2 separate regions of the Homo sapiens genome follow, and region 1 is linked to region 2. Evidence: fine-mapped expression QTL. A gene starts in region 2. The other region holds a variant in brackets. All regions are shown on one strand. Distances are from middle to middle. Region 1 has its middle 48 kb from the start of PLCB4. Region 2 holds the start of PLCB4 (phospholipase C beta 4).

Region 1 (9,248 bases), 49 kb before region 2:
TGCAAAATACTCTTGTTACTTTATCAGTCTAATAATAACAGGCCTCACTCTCACAATTCTGAACTCAGAGGATACATGTATTTGGTTTGAGGATTTGGCACATGGAATGCCTTCTTTCATCATAGCCCGCAGTACTCTGGCACTGGAAAATGAAAGTGGAACTCATGTCAAGTTTGAATCTCAAATTATGTCAAAGCATGAGATTATTTTCAGTGCAAAGAGGATTGCAAGAGAGGGCTTACATTTTATGATTGTGGAAAATTAAGAAAAAATACCTTTGGAAGAGAGAAAGTGGAAATATTATCATATCTTTATTTGACTTCAGCGTTTGTATTTTTCATCCCAATTGATAGATAAAAATGGGCAAGAAAATAAATGTATATATTTAGAGAACTGGTTTGTCAAAATATAGCCAAATATCATATTAGTCACTGGGTTATTTTACAAATATTAATAAAATAATAATATTAAAATAACAAACTTAGGCAAACTTACTATCTCCCAGGCACTGTTCAAATTGCTGCATACACATGAATTAATTAAATCTTCTACTAATGAGAAAACAAGTAATGGAGAGTTTAAGCAAATTTTCCAATGTCTCTCAGAGCTGTGGTTTGAACCCCAGCATTCTGGCTCCAGAGTCTGTTAACCACTACATGTGTATGGCCGAAGTTTTAATTGTAAATCTATGGAAAAGATGAGTCAAATGTTATGAACTGCCACATTCAGTGGCATTATGGACTTTTTTGGATTATGGATCTTTTTTGATGGTTGGACATACTAACCAGAGCATAAAAAGTTCTGAAAATACAGGCATTCACTCATTTGACAATTAAATCCTTCTTCAACAACTGTACTCAGCCCTAAGGACATCACAGCAAACAAGCCTTCCTTCCAATTCTTAAAAGGATTCAGTCTCCCAAGGAGACAGGAAAGCTGGGAATTTAAATACAGAGTTATAAGTGTTAAGATGGGGAGGCATCACGGGCATACAAAAAAGAAGCTACTGATTCAGACTTTTTGGTGGAAGGAAATCACAGAAGCCTTCTTAAAGGTGGTGACTTCCAATCAGAGATCCCGGTAAAATAAGACTTTAACCTGTTGAGGCAAAACTAAGGGGTTGCAGGTTTTGGAGAAGTGAAAGAGTCCAGATAAAGAAAGCAGCATATGAATGAGGCACTTCTCTTCCAATTAAGAAATTTTAAAACCACCTTGAGTATATGTGCCTATTATTATAATAGTTTATAATTAATAATAATTAATACTTTAAATTGGATTTAATAAAATTAGCAGCTATTATTTTCTCATTTTGGAGGAATATGGGAATGGTAGATTATAAAATGACTGTACCTTTTTCTCCTCTTTATTTTTATTTTTATTTTTTATTTTTTTGAGACAGATTCTCACTCTGTCACCCAGGCTGGAGTGAAGTGGCATGATCTTGGCTCACTGCAATGTCTGCCTCCCAAGTTCAAGCAGTTCTCCTGCCTCAGCCTCCCGAGAGGCTGGGATTACAGGTGCCCACAAACTCACCTGGCTAGTTTTTGTATTTGTACTAAAGACAGGGTTTCACCATGTTGGCCAAGCTGGTCTCGAACTCCTGACATCAAGTGATCCACCCGCCTCAGCCTCTCAAAGTGCTGGGATCACAGGCATGAGCCACTGCACCTGGCTCCTCCTTATTTTTAGAACATAGCACTTTTAGATGTGTAATTCATCTAGGAATATGTATATGTGTGTGTGTTATACCCATGAGAGAGGTATTCAAAATCTTTGGGAATTTTGACACTGCATCAACCCATAAGGCCAAAACCCAGGTACTATATAAAAATGTATACATATTTTCCCCTACAAAGCTATTCTGCCCCAACATCGCTCATATAAATATTATTTTTTACATCATTATGAAACGAACATCCATCATGTCTCTATGTATCCTCATATAAAAAGTACGGTTTGCTTATCTCTGAAAGGTTATATAACCACTAAAAAAAAAAAAAAAAAAAATCCAGTAATGTGTTTTTCATTTGTTTCAGTTGCATAAGTAGGTGTCCTATTTTGCAATAAATGAAAGACCACCATTGATAGTAAAACTGCAGAGAACATTTTGTCAATGTTTCAGGAATGCTTTTTGAAGCAACCCATGACTTTCTTTTCTGTTTCAAGAAGATCCGTATCAAAGAGAACTAAAATACATTGAAACCGTGCTAGTCATTAGAGCTGGCATCTCTCTGTATTAGGTTAGTGGTATCAAGGTACTTACACACCCCAAGAGCTGTATTTAGTTAAGTGCAAAAGTACAGGCTCTTCCATTCAGGCAGGGTAAGTGTTCCTTTATCCTGGAAGCAGTCTACCCTGAATTAACATGTGTCTTAACATAATGTTATTTCTTTTGATGCTGGGGTTTAAAGGAGACACATGAACTTCCTGAAGCCACCAAGACATCATCCAGTTTTGTTTTGTTTTTTAACTCTTTGATAATTTAAACAAAACACCAAGCAGTGCTGCTTCTGAATAATGCTCACGGAACAATGTATTTTAATGTACCCTCTGTATTTCTCCACTCTAAAGGACATTTTAGACCTTTTGTTTTAGCATTATCACCCAGCTACAGATCTGGCAGAGCAACATGGTGTGCAATTTTGTGTCAGTCTACATAATTCATCAAAAATAAACAAGAAAAATTTAAGAAAGCAAAAGAAAATTATAACTAGTAATGAGTCAGTATATAACATAGGCTGAATTACATTATGGTTTGTACAAATATTAAAGTCGTGGTTTCATATTTTTTTTTAATTTTTGTATCTACTCAAAAATCAATTGCAAACTAGAAGCTGACTATGGCTTATATAACTGGCTAAAAGCACAAAGATATGAAGGGAAAATGGGAAACCAAAATTGACATTATGGAAATATTGTTAGAACAATATAGAAAGAAAGTGTTTTGAAGAGAGATACAGTTATGTTATATAACAAGGAAAGGTGCCCTGAAATGTTAACATGACTGTTTCCATTTTCTGTGAAGATTTCTATCTCCAAGTCTCAAGTACATCATAACGGGTACAACTAGATCCTATTACAGAAGAGCCTTGTGTCAGTGACTTCAGGGTTATCTACATGACATTGTTCCTGGTTTAACTGAATATAATAGTGCTGCATTTATTCAGCATCACTGGATAATCTTTAAATAATGAAATCCTCTTCCTGTAAGCTACAAAACTTTTTTTTTCTTTTTTAATCAGGTTACTCTACCACTTAAAGATTAAGACTCCACAGTACTTGGGAGTACAAAAGCCAAACTCCTTGAATAGCCTGCAATGACTTCCTCACAGCGTTTCTAGCATTTTCTCTGTCTTACTTCAAAAATAAATACCCCAGCCATGCAATTGTTTCACGACCCTCTGCCTACTAAAATCTGCCCTAGCTCACCCCCTTAACCAAACCAAAATGATCCTAAGACTTCCCAGCCTGTTCAGTTCCTCTCTTTATTTGTTTTCCCCATCTCTTCCCTTGTCATCAGTTTCACTCTTCGCTTCCTCCAGGACAATGGAAACAAAATTTGAGCATGCATCAGAATCACCTGAGAGGCTTGTTGAACCACAGGTGGCTGGATCACACCCCCACATTTCTATTTCACTAGGTCAGGGGTAGACCCAATCTTTGCATTTCTAGCAAGTCCTCAGCGCATGCTGATGCCCCTGGTCCCAAGATTATATTTTGAGAACTCCAGGAGATCACTTTTCTCCTTTTAATTGCTCTTTCAAATTTCCAGAAGGCTTTCAAACCAGATAACTAATCTTATTAGACTGAACACACAGCTAAAAATAAATGTCAACTAAGAGAGAGTCTAAGGAGATTTCCTCTAAGACAAGTGAGTTTTGGTTTGTGGTCTTTGTGACATCTATTTTGGTTTCTCAGAGATCTTTTGCATAACACCCTCAGTGCTAGCCTGTGTCCTGGGTGGTTCAAGCTACAGAATCATTGATCTCTAGATGACTGAGTTGTTATTCTACCATGAG[C/T]TATAGTTGTTGTGAATTCTATCACTTTCAAATTTTTGCACAGTTATTATAACCAAGCAGAACTCACCAATAGAATGTCTTTGAGCTAGTGTTCTCAAACTTTCACATGCATAAGAATCTCCTAGGAGATCTTGTTGCAAATTCTAATTCAGCCAGTCTGGGTTGGGGTCCACAGGATTCTGCAATTTTTTTTTTTTTTTTTTTTTTTTTGAGACAGAGTCTCATTCTGTCACCCAGGCTGGAGTGCAGTGGCGCGATCTTGGTTCACCACAACCTTAGCCTCCCAGGTTCAAACAATTCTCCCTGCCTCAGCCTCCTGATTAGCTGGGATTACAGGCACGCACCATCACTCCTAGCTAATTTTTATATTTTTAGTAGAGACGGGGTTTCACTATGTTGGCCAGGCATGCCTCAATCTTCTGACCGCAAGTGATCCACTCAACTCGGCCTCCCGAAGTGCTGGGATTACAGGCATAAGCCATGCAGCCAAGATTCTGCATTTCTAATGAGCTCCCAGGTGATGCTGATGCTACTGGTCCATGAACCATACTTTGAGGGAAAAAAGGTATTAGGTTGTCTTTGGAGAACTCCACCCAAATAATTTTTGACTTAGTTAAAAAATAGAGCGTCATGAAGAAACTCAGTAGACACTCAAAACAATTGACACTTCTGCAGGTTAAAATCATCTTTTATCAAATCCTTGTAATTGCCATGTCTGTTACTCACTCATGTTGTAGTCATAGTTAGGTAGTATTTATCCACAAATTCAGCCTTGCAGCAATCTGTCATATTCAGGTGAGTGCCAAACACCAGCAAGCATCTCTTTGAGGGACAACAGACAGTTGTCAATGGTCTTCTACAGGCTCACTACATGTTGTGTTTGTATACCTCAAGGGAATCTGTTTGATAGCACCAAAAATAGCAGGGCTTTTTTTTTTTTTCTCCCAAGATAAGACAGTATACTATGTACTCCTCACTCTGGGATCAGGAGACCATTGTCTTGGGTTTTCTAGAAGCAGAGCCTGAACCAAGGATGTGTGTGCACATAATTTATTAAGGAGGTACGTTCAGAAGACCTATGGGAGAGAGAAGGAAGTAGAATACAGAATTGGAAGGAACCAAGCAAGGGTGAGGCCTCAAGAATGGTAGCCTCAACCTGATCGGTGTGGGGGTGCTCTGGAGCACAAATTGCATAGCAAAGTTGTCTGGTACTGGGTCAAAGAGACCAGGCTTTTGTGCCCTCTTACTTATTAGTCACAGCCACTTGGTCATGGGAGAGTTAACCTGCCAGGCATCTCCAGACCAGGTGACTCCCATCAGTCAAGGGCAATTCTCCAGGGAAGGGTGCAACTGTGAGCCATTAGCTGCAGCTCTCGTGGCAGCTGAAGGATGAGGGTGCAGGACAGTAAACAGGATACGAGTGGAGAACCAACAGTGCCAATTGGGAGTGAAAATGGATACACCAGTGGACACAGATTGCTTAAAATGAGGGCTCCTCTTCATGGGCAGATAAACAAACCCTTTCCATAGGAAGTCTTTAGGGGGGATATGGGAATTACGGGCTAGCATGGATACAGAGAGGCCACGTGAGAGAAGCAAACAGCTAGCCTGAGTCGTTGCTCATGACAGAAGAAACATGGGCACATTTAGGACCCAGAAGCAAATCTCTGGGTTTTAAATTAGGTCCTAGTCAGGAACTCAGCAGGGAGGAATAGGGAGATGTCTTGGGTAACTTGTGGACTAACAATGCAGTCTCTGTTCTGCAAATCCTTCCCCAGGAGAAAGCTTGGCAGACCTGTATGCATTCTATGGGGCTTTCCTTTCCAGTTACCTTTCCACAGGCTTCACTTTCTCCAAGTTTGTGCTCTCCCAAGAAATCAAAGAGGCCTTCTGTCCTATCAGATGACAAACATCTCACTTTCTTGGCACCTCTCCAAGAATAAGCAAATGCCAGACTTCTAGATTTTCGTAAATGAAAGATTCCAAAACCTAGAAAATCCTTTCCAGGGCTGATGGGAATATATGTATATATAAAAAGCTGTCAGTTATTTCTTGACCCCAATGTCTGTGCATTTCAAAGTTAATTGCATTTATTTTCTATGTCATATCTTTCTGGTTTTAAACAAAGTTATGTAAAACAAAGACAAATTTAGTTTTAAATGTTCTAATAAGGCAATATTTTGTCCCCAGGATAAACATTCTAAACATTTCTTTGTGCTAAAATTGAATAATGCTTTCTAGTTGTGGAAGGTAAGTACCTTTGGGAACAAACACAATATCGTCTATTCACCACCTTAAAATTAATTTAAAAAAAAAAACTGTATTAGCAAGGAGTGAAAGACTTTGTCTAGACAGCTTCCTTTAGGCAGAATGAACAGCGGCCAGTGCAGCTGGATGTTCTGCCCTTTGGGATATGGGCAGTCATAGACAGCTGAGGGTTCAGGAAGGAAAGGAGGTAGCTAGGGAGATTCTCCACATCTTGACAGAGCAGTAGAGCAAGCTTCAGAACATCATGCTTCTCTGGGGTCCCATTAAGATCCCATTAAGGATCCATTAGGGTGGGCAGCCAGTACAGGCTGCTACAATGGCAGACTCCTGTATCAGTGCAGCTGGAAGCTCCAGAGAGCATGTTCATTCTGCATTCCAGATTTGGACATAATAAATGCCAAATGAAACTCTTGGTCTGCTCCCTGAACCTGCTCCATCCACAGTCCTGTCCACCCTAGTGAATAGCAACTCCATTCTTCTAGTTGCCCTGGCCAAAGTAACTGTGGTCATCTTTGCCTGATCTCTTTACCTCACAGTCCATGGCCAATCTGTTAGCTAATGTGGTTGGCATTCCCTTTAAAACCAGAACTTCATCATTCTCACCACCTTCACTGTTCTCATGGTCCCAGTCAGCACGATCTCTTGCCTGCACTGTTAGAATATCTCTCTGCATGGCCCTATGATATCCATCCTTGGCCCACAACATTCTTAAGGGGGCAGCAAGAGTGATCCCTCGAAAACACAAATCAGGCCAAGTGTGGTGGCTCACACCTATAATCACAGCACTTTGGGAGGCAGAGTCAGGAGGATTGCTTGAGCCTAGGAGTTACTCCCTGTGTAGCAACACAGGGAGACCCCATCAATACAAAAAATAAAAAAAACTTTCCGGGTGTGGTGGCGCACACCTGTGGTCCCATCTACTCAGGAGGCTGAGGCAGGAGGATCACTTGAGCCTGGGAGTTCAAGAGTGCAATCAACATCATACCACTGCACTCCAGCCAGGGTGACATGTGAGACTCTGTCTCTTAAAAAAGAAAAAAGAGAGGGGTGGGGCTGGGTGCTGTGGCTCACACCTGTAATCCCCGCACTTTGGGAAGCCAAGGCAGGGGGATCATGAGGTCAGGAGTTCAAGACCAGCCTGGCCAAGATGGTGAAACCCCGTCTCTACTAAAAATACAAAAATTAGCTGGGTGCAGTGGTAGGCGCCTGTAATCCCAGCTACTTGGGAGGCTGAAGCAGGAGAATCACTTGAACCCAGGAGGTGGAGTTTGCAGTGAGCCGAGATGGCACTACTGCACTCTAGCCTGGGTGACAGAGCAAGACACCATCTCAAAAAAATAAATAAATAAATAAATAAAAATTAAAATTAAAATTAAAAAATTTGAAAAAAACCTCCACAAATCAGATATATCACAGTCCTCTGTTCAAAACCCTCCAGTGAACCCCATTTCACTCAAAGTAAAGCCAGAGGTTTTAAAAAAACAAAAGCTTCCCAAGCCCTACATGTTCCCCTTCCCTCCTCAACACAGGTATACTAAGTTACCCTTTTTTTTTTTTTGAGACAGAGTCTCACTCTGTCACCCAGGCTGGAATGCAATAGCACTATCTTGGCTCACTGCAACCTCTGCCTCCTGGGTTCAAGGGATTCTCATGCCTCAGCCTCCCAAGTAGCTGGGATTACAGGGGTACACCACCATACTTGGATAATTTTTGTATTTTTAGTAGAGATGGGGTTTCACCATGTTGGCCAGGCTGATCTCAAACCCATGACCTCACGTGATCTCCCCACCTGAGCCTCTGAAAGTGCTGGGATTACAGGCACGAGCCACTGCACCAGCCCAACTTTTAAACTCTTTACCTAACGTAACTCCCCTTGTTCCCTCCAACACTGGCCTCTTGCTGTTTCTGGAACTCTCCAGGCATAATCTCACCTTGGGACCTTTGCCTGGAACAATATTTCCTCCCAGCATGGCTAGCTCCCATGCCTCAGGCAAGTCTTTACTGGAATGTCACCTTCTCATTGCCTGATCTATTTAAATAATAATCCCCCTGCCCTAGCACTCACACTCCCTATCATTCTTCTGATTATTTTTCTCCTTTAATTCTTATCACCATTCAATATACAGTACTGAATATTTTACTCATATATATGTTTAATTGTGTATGTTCCCCAGTAGAATATAAGTGCCATGAGAACAGTGGTTTGCACCTGTTGTGTTTGCAAGTTGATGCCCAGTGCCTAGAACAGTGCCTGGCATATTAGTGGCCAGAGGAATATGTAATGGAATCTTGCAATGTGTGAAACACTCCACCAGTTACTGTCTAGACTTTGACCCTGCAACTAGATAATTAGCAAAACAGACAGGGCTTTTTGCTTTTACGGGGCTTAAAATCTACAGTTGTACTGCCCAAGTTAGTAGTACTAGTCACATATGACTACTTAAACTTAAATTAGTTAAAATTAAGTAGAATTGAAATACTATTTTTCTTTTTTTCTTTTTTATTTGAGATGGAGTCTTGCTCTGTCACCCAGTCTGGAATGCAGTGACGTGATCTTGGCTCACTGCAACCTCCGCCTCCTGGGTTCAAGCGATTCTCCTGCCTCAGCCTCTTGAGTAGCTGGGATTACAGGCATGCACCACCATGCCTGGCTAATTTTTATACTTTTGGTAGAGATGGGGTTTCACCATGTTGGTCAGGTGGGTCTCAAACTCCAGACCTCAAGTGGTCCGCCTGCCTTGGCGTCCCAAAGTGCTGAGAGTACAGGCGTGAGCCACTGGGCCCCGCCCAGATACCATTTTCCAATCACACAAACCACATTTCAACAGTCTCATTGGCAACTGGCTTCCATGATGAACAGCCCAGAGGCGGAGCATTTCCAACATCACAGGCAGTTCTGTTGGATAGTGCTGACAGACATGGAGGGTTCCTCTACTCCAATTCCCTCTTTTATAGGTGAGG
Region 2 (9,248 bases):
GGCAATTATTTTTGTCTCTTGCTTATTTTAGTATCCTGGCCAAAGAGTAGTGCCTGGCACATAGAAGGTTTCAAAAAATTTGTTCAATGGGCCAGGCACAAACCTGTAATCCAAGCTCAATCCTTTGGCTCAAACCTGTAATCTGAGTACTTTGGGAGGCTGAGGCAAGAGGATCATGTGAACCCAGGAGTTCACAACCAGCCTGGGCAACATAGTGAGACTCTGTCTCTACAAAAAAATAAAATAAAAAAATTTAGCAAAGTGTGGTAGCGCACACTTGTAGTCCAAGCTACTGGGAGTGCTGAGGTGGGAGGATCACTTGAGCCCCTGGGTTTGAGGTTGCCGTGATGATGCCACTGCACTCCATCCTGGGCAACAAAGCGAGACCCTGTCTCAAAAAAAAAAAATGTGGAATGAATGACCATCTAACATGTCATCAAAGGCAGGGTAAGGGAATTGAGAATTTGGATTGAATTTAGGATTTAGAGAAAAAAATTATTTAATGTTTATACCTGAGTTGAGATTCCTTAATAAACATATTATTAGATTGAAGACTTAACAGTAACAACAAAGATTACTGTGACTTGGTTTACCAATATATAAAATGAAAGATAGGCTTAATCTATACAACTTTGAACTCTAAGGCAGGAGGGCTAGTTTTATGGACTCTGATGTGTGTGGTAGATTTTAAAAACAAAATACTACTCTATTTTGTGTCTCCTTTTATTAAAATTGAAGTTGATTTCTCCATGTTTTGAATCTGGGCATGGCCATGTGGCTTGCTTTGGCCAGTAGAACATTAGCAAGCAGAGGTATAAAATGCTATTTTGAATTGGGGCTTTCCTTCTTTTGCTGCTGGGAACTAGGAACTCACCATACGAAGAAGCCATATGGGAATACCCTGTCATCCTTGCCATCCGGATGAGGCTCCAAGCTCCGCATGTCTGCAGCTGCATGAGTAGGCCCAGGAGAACAACACTGCTCAGCTGATTTTAGCTCCAGTTACTGATTCACAGAATTGTGAGCTAATGAATAATTGTTGCTTTAGGCTACTATGTGTTGGTGTGGTTTGTTACACACTAAAGGCTAACTGATATAGTGTGTTTGGGTGCATTATCTACTAATACTATGTTCTATTGTTAAAAACTGTCAAGACACACAGCTTCAGCTCATCTGTCTGTGAGTGATACCTGGGGAATAGAGGAACATACACAGGAAGCCCTGGAGAACTGGGTTTGAGCCTAGTGATGCTACTTCTTGGCCGTGTGACCTGGGGGCAAATTGCTTAACCTTTTTGAACCTTGGTTTTCTTATACATATAAAATAAAGAACAGGCCTAAAATACTGCCCTAACCTCTTGCAACTAAAAATCTATCTAAAGACAGCAACATCAGCATGGTGTGGGAACTTGTTAGAAATGCAGAATCTCTGATCCCACCCCAGATCTGCTGAATCAAAATCTGGAGTTTAACAAGATCCTCAGGCAACTTGTATGCCCATTACACACTGCCTTATCATGCTGGAATCACTCAAAATCACCAGATCCCTTTTTTTTTCTTTGAGATGGAGTTTTGCTTTTGTCGCCCAGGGCGGAGTGCAGTGGGGCTATCTCAGCTCACTGCAACCTCCGCCTCCCGTGTTCGAGAGATTCTCCTGCCTCAGCCTCCTGAATAGCTGGGATTACAAGTGCCCACCACCACGACCGGCTAATTTTTTTTTTTTTTTGTATTTTTAGTAGAGATGAGGTTTCACCATGTTGGCCAAGCTGGTCTCGAACGCCTGACCTCAGATGATCCACCCGCCTTGGCCTCCCAAAGTGCTGGGATTACAGGCGTGAGCCACCGCGCCCAGCCAAAATCACCACATCTTTAATATCCCTAACAGTGAAGAGCCACCAGCCTTTCCCTGGGATCTATCTTTCCTTTCCAATCTTGTGGGGAAACTTGGTCTGGGATATTTTTCTTGGCTTCTTCACAGGCAGACAGCTTCAGCTGCTGAGGAGCTTTTTTTCCAGGCTCAGCTAAAATTACAGCTTAGTAGTTGAGCTGGGGAGTGGTCAGTGGGGCCTCAGCCCCCTCTTGCTTAAGGATGCCCAGTTGGTTAAACTTTTGATGATTATTACCCCCATCTCTTAGCCCTGCCTGGAAATGGCCAGGATGTGCCAGGGGAATGAGTCTTTTGCATCTACAACTGCCCCTGCCCATCAGAGCCTGGACTATTGTTTGCACACACATTCCCCCTCCATTTCTTACACTTCACGCCCCGTCTGGCCCTTTCTTTCCTCCTGGCCAGCCGGACCGGCTCAGGCGGCTGAGCATGCCTAGTGCAGCTGCGAGCATGGCCCCAGTCCCCAATGCGCAGGTGCCACGTCTCCGGGTTTTGGTGGCCGCCGGCCGGGAGAAGGAGGAGGCGGAGTGGGGAGGAGGGAGCCCTCCGGAGTTCGGGAGCAGCACGTTGTGAGGGTCCACACAAGGGTGATGCCAGACCGAACACCATTAGGGCCTGGGTGTGAGTGTGACTCGGAGGCACCTGGGGGCCGTTGTAGGGCCGGGAAAAGCCAGGAACTGGCTGGAGCAGCACCCCAGCATCCCAGGGACCAAAGTCTGGGGGATTTGCATGTCTGAGGTTGCACTTGTGGGAAGACTTTTTGGAACCACTTAATCTCTGTGGCTCTGTGTAAGACCCGCGAAATAAAAAGAGGCAGTAGTACTCTTTGGAAGATTGTTTTAGGGATTAAATGAATAAAAAGCGTTTAGAACACTGCAGGACGCATTGTAGGCGCTGTATGGGTTTATGAAACCGAATATAAACAAATAAGCACGTCCCCCACCCAGCCAACGGCTTTGGGGGCCCCGTTCTGGCCAGTCCTGAGCCCCTCCACACGGCCCACGGCGGGCTGCGGGTCTCCCATCCGAGGAGGGTGCCGCTTTTCTGCCCCCGCTCCCTGGGTTCTGCGCCCAGCGCCATCCCGTGCGCCCCCGACCCTTGGGCATGGGGCACATGCCGCGGGGAGCCGCCAGGGAGACCCCAGAGGAGCGCGCCGCGGGCCGGCTTCCCCGGATGCCCCACCCACCTCCTCTTGGCGCTGCCCACCACCTGCCTCGGCTGCTCGGCCCCCGGCTCGCGAGGCTGCGCCCCCGACCCAGTCGGCGCCCACTCCTCGCCCTGCGGGCTCGCGGCAACTGGGCGGCCGGCCCGGCCCCTGCCCACCCCCAGCCCAGCCCGGCGCGCCGCACTGGGCATGCTCCGTAGCCTGGGCAGGTTGGGGCTGCGAGGCGACAGCTCGGGCTCTGGAGCCGGGAGGCGAGAACGAGGAGGGAGGCTCGGGGGCAGGGGAGGAGGAAGCGGCTGGCCGCTGAGGGGCGGCGGGGCCCGGAGCGGGGGACGCGCAGGGCCCGGCGGTGGGCGGGCGGGTCGGCGCTGCCCCGTGGGCTCGCTGGGGAGCCACGGCGGAGACCCCCGCCCTCAACTGAGGTAAGGACCGCGCGGCGCGGAGACGGGGAGGCGGGGAGGCCAGGGAGGGGGTGCGGAGGCAGGCGGGAGGGCGGGACTGGGGTGCGCCGGGAGGGGGCTTGGCGGCGGCTCTTTATGGCGAGGAGGGGGTGGTGGCGCCGCGCCGGGAGCAGTAAGTGAGCTGCACCGCCAACAAGATCTCTCACACACAGACACACACACGCACACGCACACACGGGCGCGCACACACACGCGCGTACACACTGGGTCTCCAGGCAGCGGCCGTCGCCGCATCCCCGGCAGCAGCTCCAGGCAAAGTGACAGGTAGGAAAAGGCATTTCGGGTCCCGCCCGAGGATGCTCCCGCCCGCCTTGGCCCTCAGGGCTTGTTTGCTTTCCGCGGGTGCGTCCCGGACGCGCGCGCGCGCGCACCCGGATGCCCAGCGGGGACCCCGTGCAGGTGCCGGGTGCCAGGCGCCCTGTGCGCGCGGGAGGCAGGGGACCCAGACGCCATCCCCCTTCCCCTGCAGTCATCGCCTGCTGGGTTTCCTCAGACTCTCTCCAGACGTTCACCCTCTTCTGGGCTAGAAATAGCTCGGCTCGACGTGTATATGATTATTTTGGTTGGAAATAGTTGGCACCGTGCAACGCATGTAAATGTGTATGCGTGTGGATCTTCTTGCCTCTTCTGGGGAAATCATAGAAATGATTGACCGTTTCCACTTAAAACAACACTGACAGGCTTAGCACTCATTGGGGGCAGGGTTCGGGCCTCCTAAAAGCCTGTTAGTGAAGGAAATCCTTATTTTCAGAATTTTAAAGTTGCTTTTGCTTTAACCAATTAGACTCTGTATAGTACAATACTTCTGAGTGTAGACTTCGTATATGGTACTGAATCGAAGTATGGAAATATGGAATTCTCTAATTTCCAAGTGTGTTTAAGTGCAACTTTATCTAGAATCATAAAACTAGCATTTTCCTAGAGAGAAATACAACTGCCCACTATAGTTTCCATAAATATGGATATATCTGAAAGATGACCCTACTCTTCCAACTTTTTTTCCTCTTAACTTCTGTAGTGATTCTAGCTATTGTTCTAAAACATGTATTTGAAATTTAATTTTGGCCAGAATATTCAGGAAAGGTGTTTTTTTTTCCATATACGTAATACTTAGTGGTCTATATATTTAAGTTATAGGTATGTGGAGATAGCTGTTTAATAATTCTTTTTGTCTGGAAATAACGTTATTCAAACATAGGCAGCTATGTATCATTTTAAAATGATATTGAATTTCCCCTTAAAGAGAAATCAGATTTATAATGTAAACATGACCAGGAAAAGCAACTGGTGACTTTACCTGGGGAGGCTCCAAGGAGGTTAAGAAAGTATCTGAACAACTGTGTTTTTCAGAATAGAAAAATTGTGTGTGTGTTGCGGGGGAAGGTAAAATTTTAACTTTATTCTTTTATTGTTTTCAAGACGGCTGTTTTCAGAAATGTGTGGTTGAACTGAGACCCTCATATTTTATACTCTTCAAATTTGAGTGGCCTCAGTTATAGAATCATACAGAAGATCAAAAGTCTAGCTCAGCAGGGGCATGTGGTGTAATCCCTCACTATCTGTGTTATGTAATCCAGAATGCTGTTTTTCATAGGACAGTCTTGCATGATCCTTAGCTGGTGTATTGATCTATTATATCATCTTCCTTTTGAACTGTAGTAGTTTAATAAATGATTGCCATCTTTGGAGAGCACCTGTTTTCATAAAAAATCACTTTTTGAAATGGCAAAACATTTTTATTGGCACTTTTATGAACGTAAGACTTGCTGCCAGACGAGTAACCTTTTGAATGTGACGTATTATAACATATCTAAAGGTACCATGTATTAGCTTATGGACTACACTTCCTTCCAACTATATTATTACTCAACAGTTGGAACTTAGTTTTGATGGTATTACTACCCAGCTCTGAATTAATCGCTGTTGAAAATGCTGTTCTACAAGTAACTGTCAAAACAGAATTTCTAACTCCATTTGATCACTGGGTGCACATTTAAATCTGTCGGAATAACTCTACCTTTATTTTGCAAATGCATACCCACGCAGAAAGCTTTGTTCTAAAATACTCTATTGGAAGTTTTATATTTATATGCCTGAAAATGTGAGTGATGTTAAACTGCTTACATGTCCTGGAATCGTGAGGCGGTGTGTTTTTGCCTTATGAGATAAAGAAATATGGTAGTTGAAAAAGTGTTACAGGTTACCAAAAACCTTTTGCAGGAAAAGATTTTAAAAATTTGTATCACCTCTGAAATATTTCAACCACAGCAGAGTCCATTCAGTGCCCGTAGCACAGCTAGTTTGCCTTTCCCAAGATTACACACAACTGTCTTTAGATTAATGTATACTGCTGACTTTGGCAACATGGGACAGTTATATTTGGCAATTTCAGTAAACATGGTATTTTCCTAAGATACCACTAACTTCATTTTGGGGTTTGATTTATTAAGAATTGAAATGTTTGCCTGGTATTCATCTTTACCTCACCCTCTAAGTAAAATTGAGGTAAAAGTGAGCTTCAGGGCTGCTGTGCTGTTTTCCTTGTGATCACATTAGCATGCTAATTTGTGAAAGGATGTAACAATATAAGTGAAATTAGCTTCTGAGTTTAGTGTCTGAATTTTCATCCCCAGTTTTTCAGATGTAGCTGGAAAACTCAAATAACAGAATTAATGAAAAAATTTTGCAGATTATTAAAAAAAATTAGTAATTAGCTGAGTTTGATTTTTTATTTTGAAATCTTGAGAGTAAATTTTATCTTTTCGGATTAGAGCACTTAGGTAATGTAAGAAAGATTTTGGATTTCTCATGCTCTCCACACTTAATAGTAAACTATTTTTGAGGAAGTATAAATTTTCTTTGAAACTTAAAATTATTTAGCAGGCTGTGACTAAATTTTTGTTTGTGATCACTTATAAAGTAAGGGTGAAACAGCATGTTGATTAGCACCGCCGACCCAGGTCTTTTAATAAACTGTCTATCTACCACAGTTGAGTCCCTGTAAAACCAAGAACTTCTGTATTTGATATGCAAAATTAGGTCAAGGACTAATGGAGATGCTTTAATGATCACAGTTGGTATTTTATGTCCAGATTGAAGTTTTTAAAATAGTTGCTTTTCACCTCATAATATATGAATGTGTAGGCCATATTAGTGTCTGTCAAGGAGACTTATCTGCCTGTTGGGAAATAAATACAGCTTTTCATCGCTGGTGGGAGGCAGCAGTGACTTTCTGTGGTTTTGCTGTTGGTTTTCAGATGTGAACTGTGTTTGCAAGGACACTGCTTAATTCTCAGTGCTGTCCATTCCACATTTTCCTATTTCCCTCTCATATTGGGAAAATGAATAAACTTGTGTAGCTCTTTCTTCTATTCCTTAGTATTTGTTTGTTTAATAGTTTTGCTTTTGATAAAGCCTCACCCTTTAAAGTAGAAATACTTTCTCAAATTGTAATATTATTTATCTAGTTATGCCTTAGAATGATATAAAGGTTTTACATGTTCCTAGGCTGTGATTCTTTAGCTAACCAAGTATAAAAATGAGTTTACTTCCTTGCCAGTGGAGGCAGACCTGGGTGATTATGCATTACTGAGTGGATGAGTGTGATGTTTACATTGTCTTGGTTGGAATTAAGCTTGCTTTGAAAATATCACCCTGGAATAACTTTTATTTGCAAGGCCCACTTCACTCCTTTGCAGCAACCACTCCCAAACCCCATTTTCTGGGTGGAAGGGTAGAAAGAGTCTGGGTGGAAGCTCACGACTTTGGATGCTTTTTTATGCTGAAGGCGTAACCCAAGTTTCTAGAGGAGATGAAAGTAATAATGCTGTACCTTTCAAATCTCAGCTAGGAGATCCTTATGTTCCAGGGAATGAATGACCAGCAGAGTGTTTATTTTCCCTGCATGCACTTCGTCTACTTTTCCTTTCCTTTATCAAATAAAAATAGTTGAAATGGACATAAATCCAAGGTTTTTCTCTGAACACCTCTCTTACTCACTACTTATAAAACCTTCAATGAGAATGTCACACACCATGTGACCATAAGATAGTGTTATCTTCTCCCCTTTCCTGGGATTCTCCTTCAAAGCTCAAAGGATCTTTTGGTATGCCTAGGGCTGGGAAATTCCACCTCTAGCTACGGAAATACCCTTGGGCCAGGCAAATCATGGCTTTAAGATACATTGCCCTTCTTGTCCTCCCGAACAATTAAAGCATGTCTTTGGCTCCCAGACATGAGTGAATTGAAGTAGCCATTTCCTTAGAAACAGGAAGAAAAAAGCAACTTGAAGTAATTAATTGTAAGCAGCTCATCCAGAGATCAGAGACCACAGACCACAGACCCCTGATTTTACATTTGACATCTCCCTTTCTTCTCTAGAACAGGAGTTCTTCATTTTAGGGCCAAGGATGCAGTTTGGTGGGTCCACGAATGTGGCTGGCAAATGAATTACATCTTTATATTCACTTACTTCCAAGTGACAATTGGGGCAGGTGTTAGGGCTACTACTAGATCTTGGCATTTAGTGGGTTGAAGAGAAACACATGTATTACTTCACATATCCCTTTAAAGAGTTATTTTGATAATTATATTTCAATGAGATTGATTTCCATTGTACTTTTAGGTATTTAATTTTATATATTTAAACATATTATGCTGGGCCAGGCATGCTGGCTCACACCTCTAATGCCAGCACTTTGGAAGGCTGAGGTAGGAGGATTACTTGAGGCCAGGAGTTTGAGACCAGCCTAGGTAACACAGTAAGATCAATTTATGCAAAAAATACCAATAAAAAAATTAGCTGAGTGTGGTGCACATGCCTGTAATCCTAGCTACTTGGAAGGCTGAGGCAGGAGGATCGCTCAAGCCCAAGAGTTCAAGGTTATAGTAAGCTGAGATCGCATCAGTGCACTCTAGCCTGGGTGACAGAGTGACAGTCTATTAAAAAATAATAATAAAATGAAAATATCCTGCTGAAAAGGGTCTTTAAGATTTACCATATTGCGAAGGGCATTCATGACCCACACAAGGCGAAGACCATGTGCTCGAGAAATGCTTCCTCCCAGAGGCAGCTGGCTGGGTGGGTGTTTTCACTGTGGGTTTGCATTGAGCAGTGGTTGCTGAGATCTTCAGGCGTTGGAATCAGGCACTGAATTCCTGACAAATGCCCTGTTTTAGCTTGAATGCTGACAGATGCCCTCTTTTAGCTGTGTGACCCTGGGCATTCACTCTGAGCCTCAGTTGCCCTATCTGTAAAATGAGGAGAATAACCCTATGGGGCAAAAGTGCTTGGTGCTGCACTGTGAATGATACAGGGTACTGTTACTGCTGCTACTACAGGTGCTCAAAGGATCCCAGGATCTTTGGGTGTGCCCAGGTTTGGGAAATTCCACCTGTAGCTACGGAAACACCCTTGGGCCAGGAAAATCATTACTTTAAGATACATTGCCTTTCTTATGCTCCTGAACAATTAAAAGCATGTTTAACAAGTGCTACTGCCCCTTCTCCTAATGGTACTACTAGTATTATGGCTCTCATCTTGTTCTCTTTCATAGGGGTAGATGGCATTGACCTTATCCATACAAAGCAGCCTGAGAAAATTCCTATAAAATTTACAAGGGACACTTACTTTGCCACTCTGCAAGTACAGAAAGTTTCAGTCACCCCACAGGACCACCATGAAGTACCAGATCTTCCTTTGGACTTGCCAAGCCCAGTGACTGCATTTGGACAGA

What was found. PIP is the estimated chance that this variant, and not a neighbour inherited with it, causes the effect. A credible set is the group of variants that fine-mapping cannot tell apart.
Region 1: its variant is the best candidate, but not a certain one, in a credible set for the expression of PLCB4 in fibroblasts (GTEx, PIP 0.74).

Annotation. Positions count from the first base shown.
Region 1 is chr20:9,016,113-9,025,360 of GRCh38, forward strand. No RefSeq gene overlaps it. Among named protein-coding and RNA genes, the nearest start is that of PLCB4, 48 kb to the right of the region's middle. The variant C/T (reference allele first, on the strand shown) is at 4,020.
Region 2 is chr20:9,065,430-9,074,677 of GRCh38, forward strand. It overlaps PLCB4 (phospholipase C beta 4), which reads left to right and starts at 3,658. Exons shown (of 40, transcript NM_001377142.1): 1 at 3,658-3,777.